Homo sapiens: one gene and its partner. The protein of the gene in region 2 purifies or fractionates together with the protein of the main gene of each other region. This does not show direct contact. Each region holds a gene or a part of one and is shown on either strand. Other genes may lie near its edges.

What was found. The genes of interacting proteins can lie anywhere in the genome.
Region 1: the proteins of SLC43A3 (region 2) and SEMA4D purify together in Homo sapiens (affinity purification with mass spectrometry; one large-scale study listed by BioGRID and IntAct). This does not show direct contact.

The regions. Positions count from the first base shown.
Region 1 is NC_000009.12:89,386,559-89,390,207, reverse strand, and holds part of SEMA4D (semaphorin-4D isoform 1 precursor), read left to right. Parts: intron 1-1,160; coding exon 1,161-1,336; intron 1,337-1,415; coding exon 1,416-1,572; intron 1,573-2,599; coding exon 2,600-2,822; intron 2,823-3,649. UniProt on the Homo sapiens protein: Cell surface receptor for PLXNB1 and PLXNB2 that plays an important role in cell-cell signaling. Regulates GABAergic synapse development. Promotes the development of inhibitory synapses in a PLXNB1-dependent manner.
Region 2 is NC_000011.10:57,420,473-57,424,121, reverse strand, and holds part of SLC43A3 (equilibrative nucleobase transporter 1), read left to right. Parts: intron 1-93; coding exon 94-140; intron 141-2,748; coding exon 2,749-2,825; intron 2,826-3,057; coding exon 3,058-3,150; intron 3,151-3,649. UniProt on the Homo sapiens protein: Sodium-independent purine-selective nucleobase transporter which mediates the equilibrative transport of extracellular purine nucleobases such as adenine, guanine and hypoxanthine.

The DNA.
Region 1 (3,649 bases), on a different chromosome or scaffold from region 2:
GCACTGGCCAGGGGACTCGAGCCCTCCCCTGCCATCGGGAAGCCAAGGATCAGACTTGCCTTGACCTTGACTTATTACCCAGCACTGAGGGTTTGCAGCAGGATCAGTGAGCAGATTCAGCGATGCACAGAGCAGCCACCTCCACCCCCGACAAGTTTCTACAAGTCTTAGGCACACTGCTGTCATCCCCTCTGATCCCTTTTTTTTCCCCATACTTGTTTGAACTCCTGGACTAGGGTGGTTTGAGCTTAGGCCCCACAGCTCCTGCCTACCACGCAGGCACACATGAACCCTTCACCTGCTGCCCGTGACCTGAAAGCCACATGAGACCCCTGACGAAAAATGTGCTAGAAATTATTCTTTGCTAAAACATCAAGGAGGAAAATGAAGTCCTTTTATCAAAAAGAGAATTTGGGCTCCTGTAATCACACAGCAGAGATGAAGGGGGAACATTTTCCCTGTGTCCAAAATAAGTAAGGCTGCTTCTATTTCATATTCTTCTGCACTCAGGTTTTGTGGTTTCAGTATTTCTCTCCAGACCACACACAGTCATGTGTAGTTTATAATTGTGTCTTGGTCATCGGATCCCTGAAAAGCGTTTATAAAGAACTTAGGTTCAAAGCACTTTAGCAGATACTTTGGGTAGAAAGGAAGTGAAGGATCTATTCCTTTAAAGGGAGGAAGGTTCACACATTTGCCCAAGACAGGCTGCAGGGCCGGTGGCTGTCCCCTGGAAGGAGGCTGCCGCCACTTGCCCCACCCAGAGCATGTTCATTGATGGGCCCTATGTCAGGAAAGTCACACAATGCCAGGGGCCTTGGCAGTTGGAAGTGTGTGAGCACGGCAGCACCTCTGCGGTTGCAGGACTGAATGCTGGGCACAGGCAGGCATGGACGATCAAATGAGCTTTCAGTGAGAGGGCTTTTGTCCGTTTTGTTTTGTGTGTTAACCCAGGAGCGTTCTGGGATCCAAGCTGGAACCTGGACGTGGTGCTGCGGGCCACTCACATAATTGCGGCATCTGTCTCCTGTTGCCCGAGCTTTGTTTCAGTCAGGCACAGCCGCGCTGTGCTGGGCCATGGAGGGGTGCACCTCTGACCTTAGTGCTTGCTCACAGGGGATCCACTCTCGGCCCACCACGTCTTCTTGTTGGGGTTTTAGGGGGACCAGGGCGGCCTGAGGACCTTGCAGAAGAAATGGACCTCCTTCCTGAAAGCCCGACTCATCTGCTCCCGGCCAGACAGCGGCTTGGTCTTCAATGTGCTGCGGGATGTCTTCGTGCTCAGGTCCCCGGGCCTGAAGGTGCCTGTGTTCTATGCACTCTTCACCCCACAGCTGTAAGTGCCCTGGGTGGAGTCCCCCTCCTTGCTCCCTTGATGCCGCCAGGTGGTCCCGTCACCTCTTTCCCCTCCCCAGGAACAACGTGGGGCTGTCGGCAGTGTGCGCCTACAACCTGTCCACAGCCGAGGAGGTCTTCTCCCACGGGAAGTACATGCAGAGCACCACAGTGGAGCAGTCCCACACCAAGTGGGTGCGCTATAATGGCCCGGTACCCAAGCCGCGGCCTGGAGCGGTGAGCTGGGGCACTGGGGGCGGGCCGTGCTTTCCCTTCAAGGCCCAGGGCATGGAATCCAGTACAGGCACTGGGGCCTGCTCATGGGCTGGGTACCTGGCCACGCCAAGGCTCTCTGCATTGGGACAGGGACGGCCGATGAGCACAGCTCATCCTTCTTCCCTTTTGCATGTTACGTAACAGCCATTGCTACACTATTGCACAAACAAGAAGGCTGGGGCAGCTGTTTTGCACAATTAACATTGCATAACAATTAGGTCTGTTTCATTTTCAGTTTCTTACAGAGAAACACATGATTCCTTGGCAAAGGCCTCTGCACTGTCCACTAGTCAACAGGAGTCACATTTTTTCCTCCTAAATATAGTGAACTTTATGTAGAAATTGGGAATTTCCAGGCCGATTCCTTCCCTCACATGGGGAAATGGGTGTGACAGGCATGTGCACAGCCCTCTGTGGGGCTGTGACCTACATGGGGTGTCCTGGCCCTCAGAGTTCACTGCAGCACCAGCTCCCTCCCAAGGGCAGCTGTCCCTGACACCATCATGGCTCCTTCTATGCATAGCTTCGTAAAATGTGTTCACTCATGGTCACAGATTTTGGTTTACACACATCAGGGAGCTAGAACAGGAAAAAAGAATCCCTCAGGCTCTTATGCTATTTTAAATTGTCCTGGTTTTAGCCATGTTTAGCATTCTTTTCATGAGAAAGCTGCAAATCAGTGTTCTGTTTTTTAATTTCAAAAGCTCAATAAGTGTTTTTCACTTACAAATAGATAAAAATTCCTTCCCTGAGTATGTATCGTGAATGCAATTCTGTCTTGCAGATGTGTTTTATAACTGTGTCCTCTGCTGGCTGGGGAGAGGCCACCTTTCCTCATAGTAAAGTTATTCACTGCTACCCTCATTTCAAGGCATGCATTGTGTGGTTTCCAGGTTTTGCAGCCCCCCCTGCGTTGGCTGCTTGTGTGGAAGCACCCGTTGCGTGGTGGGACACGAGCACGTTAACAGCGGGGATTTTCTCCCTGCAGTGCATCGACAGCGAGGCACGGGCCGCCAACTACACCAGCTCCTTGAATTTGCCAGACAAGACGCTGCAGTTCGTTAAAGACCACCCTTTGATGGATGACTCGGTAACCCCAATAGACAACAGGCCCAGGTTAATCAAGAAAGATGTGAACTACACCCAGATCGTGGTGGACCGGACCCAGGCCCTGGATGGGACTGTCTATGATGTCATGTTTGTCAGCACAGGTGGGTTCCGAGGGCTTGGCAGGCTTGACAGTGACAGCACATCTGTGTCCTCTGGTAGGAAAACTGGGAAATCCAATTATTCTTTCGTGAGTAGTTCCATTGCCTCCCTCGAGGTGACCTGGGAGGTTTGTGGGAGCGTAAGAAGATTTCTGAGAAGTCACCACACCAGGTGGCTTTCAGATCTGGGACCACCAGGCTACTGGAGGTACTTGTTAAAAATAAAAATGCAAGTCCTGGCCTGTGGCTGGGCTGGGCTGGGGCAGAGGAGTACTGGCCGCCGAGGAGTTGGGGCAGTGCCCACGCAGGGGGCAGGTGTGAGCCACCTGGGAGGAGGCGTCAGCCTGGCGTTTCCTGACTGCTGGCAGAGGACCACGTCCCTGCTTCCTGGCCGAGGAGCCAGGTTTTAGATGTGCCCTGGCATGTGGACTCTGAAATAAGCACTTCTGGAACAGGGACAGGGGCCAGGAGCCACGGTGGCTGGCAGCGCATTGTGGCCTGCCCTTGGAGCCTCCCAGCCAACCTCACATGCCCCCTGTCCTCACCGCCTGCCTAGGGCACTTACCAGTGACACCCCGAGGGCTGGTGGAGCATGGGAGCCCCCTCATGTGGCACTTAGCCTCAAGTGTAATGTCGACTGTTGGTGAGGATTCTTGGGGTCAACCATGGAACAGTTTATTTTCCTTGGAAAAAAACTGGAATAACCCATAACACTTGGGTTTCCAGTTGTCTGTTTTGCCAAAGCCTTTTCCTTTTTTTGTTTCTAATGCGAAATCATCATTGTTTTCTAAGTATCTGTGGAGGGAATGACTTGAGAGTGAAGAGTGTGA
Region 2 (3,649 bases):
CTACACTTGTGGGCTGGCTGAGCAGAATCATGTTTTTTCTCCCAGGTTTCTCCCTCCTTGACAATATTCTGCTTTTCCTGTTATGTGTTTCAGATTTTTCTACACCACCGCCACACTCATCATAGCCTTCACCTCTGCAGGTGAGTGCTGTCAGGTGGGTGGGAGGGATGCAAGCTCAGAGGCACCTGGTGGCTGGGGCAGGTGTGAGCAGAGGGCTATAGGCAAGATATACAGACCACATGGTTATTCAGAGATCTGCAGCTTGAAAGAATCCTGGAAGGATCTTGAGCTATTGCTGGTCTGTGAAAACAGTTTATTGAGAAAATGTGAAAAGCAAGGATGATGGAGAGGGATTACTTCAGAGAGTAGAATTTATTCAAAACTTTACATCTGGCCAGGTGCAGTGGCTCACTCCTGTAATCCCAGCACTTTGGGAGGCTGAGGCGGGTGGATCATCTGAGGTCAGGAGTTCAAGACCAGCCTGGCCAACATGGTGAAATCCCTTCTCTACTAAAAAAAATACAAAAATTAGCTGGATGGTGGTGCGCGCCTGTAATCCCAGCCACTCAGGAGGCTGAGGCAGGAGAATTGCCTGAACCCAGGAGGCAGAGGTTGCAGTGAGCCAAGATCACACCATTGCACTCCAGCCTGGGTGACAAAGTGAGACTCTACCAAAAAACAAACAAAAAACCCTAAAAAACAAAACAACAACAAAAAACCTTTACATCCTTCTCCTATGTGTTAAAATGTTCTCTTTCTCTTTTTAATGAAATGATTATATGAATGACCATTTTGCAAATATCCTTACTTAGCAGGGTAAAAGTTGACAACCCTATTGTACTCAAAATCTTTGTTTTAAAATTTCACCAGTCTGTTAAGTCTGGAACTCCAATCTGGTTTATTTTCCACCACCCTTCCACCCATTACACAGAGGAGAAACTGAAGCCACAGCAGGACCCCTTGCAAAGACATGTCCATGGCCACAGAGAAAGCAAGTGGGAGGTGGGCCTGATGTGCAGGCCTCCTGATCCCTCACTCTTCTTTCTGTCATTGCCTTGGTTATGGTGGCCACGAGATGCCTCCCAATATTCCTTCCTAGTGTTAGACCCGTGGCTCAATTTTTGGTTTAGGAAAGAAAGTACATTACTCTTGTGTGTGTAAGCTATGCTAAAGCTGACAGCATCATGAGATTGTCTGCACTCATGCTGGGCAAACACAGAGGCTGAGTGTCTTTGTTCACACAGATCTCATGAGATGGCCCAGCACCTCAAACCAATTATTTCAAACCACTCTCCTTATCAAACCAGCATCATCTACTCTAAAAGCCTGTAAATGATTTTTAAGCAACTGAATGTGGAGGTGGTGGCTGGGTAATGTTTGACTCGTGCCTGCAAATCGTCTGAGCAACAATCCTCCTCTTCCTCCATAATATAGGGCTTTTCAGTTTTGAAAAAAGCATTGAGCCCATAAGGACTCTATTGTGAAAGGAGTCTCCAACCTTTAGTAGTAGGAGAGATGTACATTTTATAAAGACAGAAATTGAATGGTAAACTGTGTGAATACTCTAAAATTAGCTCTTGGCAGTGCTTCTTAAGGTATAGCACGGTAGTTAAGAGGATGTTAGGGGCACACGCATACTACGTGAACTACACTAACAAACATCAAATCACCTGGTAGAACAGCTATTCCCTTTTTATTTCTCTTTCAGTCCTTCTGATTTCATGAAAGAATGTCTTCATGTGGGGCCAGTGTGATTTTAACACTGATGGGAAGAGCAGGTCTTAGGCTTTGAACATTCTAAGGTCAAATGCATCCAGCTACAATTGAATAACATTGTTTTCCTTTCATTGTATTTATTTTGACAGTTACTTTCTATTCATGACAAGTAATGCCAGTGTTTTCATCTACAGTAGTGATATAAAGTGTCCTTTAAAAATAGATACTTTTTGGATAAAAGTGAGTCAACTTAAAACATTTTAGCAAATAATAGGACAGGCATAGGTTGTGGCCAGAATAATGGTGGGCAGAAGTCTGGTTTGGGGAGGAAGAATTTGTCAAGGGTTCCCCTAGCCCAGCTCTTGAGCTTTTTTGCTGTGGTCTCACACTTACCAGACCTGTTATAACCATTTGTTTGCATGTCAGTCTATTTAAGGGCAAGGACTATCTGATTCATCTTGCATTTCCAGTGCCAAGCACAATGCCTGGCACCAAAGAAGTGCTCAGAGTTTAGTGAACAAAGAAAAGACCATGGTCCTTTTCTCACTCAGTTCTCATAGCACCTGAGACAGGAAGAGCAGGAACTGTTGTTCCCATTAAACAGATGATTGAAGCTCAAGGCCAATACCATGAATTAGGGAATGGGCTAGAGGGTTGAGCCAGGGACCTGAGTCCAGGGTCTTCTTTTCCAGGAGTGTCAAGGATGAAAGGGAGAGGCAGCTTGTGGTTTACTGAGGGAAGAGAGAGGTGGCTTCACTTAGAGCTCTGCCTCTGTCTGTAGACTTCCTGGCCTGCCACAGACTGAGGACCAACTTTGGTTGGGAAGAAGGTGGCTCAGAAGACTTCCACAGAGATATCTGGGGAAGCCTTGGCCGGTATCCTAAAAACCCTTGAAGGACGCTGGAACGCTGGCTAGAATTGGGGCCTGGATACCAGGATTGTTGGGAATTTGGAGCAGGTGGGAGCAGAGTTTGGGGCTCCATGTTTGGGTTGCACTATGACACCACCCTACCTCTGACTTTGATGGTCCAGGCTCAGCCGTGCTGCTCTTCCTGGCCATGCCAATGCTCACCATTGGGGGAATCCTGTTTCTCATCACCAACCTGCAGGTGGGAGCCTTCCCTAATCCCAGGCACTCGGCAGGGTGGCGGGAAGGTGGAGGGAAGGAGAGACCCTTTTCTATAATTGGCTGCCTCAGATGGGGTTGGCCCAAGCTGAGGTGGGAGCTCTAGCGGTGGAGGGTGAGTTTGGGTATAAGGAGGGTCTGCCACATGCTGGGTGCTCAGGAAGTATCTGTTTCATGAATAAATAAGTGATCCAGGCTAGTCCTATCATCCCCAGATTGGGAACCTATTTGGCCAACACCGTTCGACCATCATCACTCTGTACAATGGAGCATTTGACTCTTCCTCGGCAGTCTTCCTTATTATTAAGGTAAATATAGCAACAGCCTACATTCACTGGGCACTTGTATATGCCAGACACTTGTCTTGTGAACCTGCATTATTTGTCTCCATCAACTCGGTGAGGTAGGTACTGTGTTACCCCCATTTTACAGATGAAGCATTTGAGTCTCTGAGGTTAAAAAGCTTGTTGAAGGTTCTGCAGCTAGTAGCCATGATACTGGAACTTGAACCCAGGCTTGTCGGTTCTAGAGCCTGAGCTTGTAACCGCTAAGCCCCTTCTTCAGACTTGCCCAAGCTTTTGTGGCAGTGGTCATAATGTGCTTGGGCCAGTGTTGGGTAGAGGCTGGGGGACCTTTAGAGTGGGGCGTTTGCTGCTGTGAGCTTCTAGTTTGGACAAGAAGGTGGCAAGTGGCTAGTGGGTACAGCAGGGGCAGACACAGAGGCTTGTCCAGCTGTCCCAGTGGCTGATGTTGGGGTATCAGGGGATGAACTGTTGCCAAGGCTATTAGAGGTCAATCAACAACCAT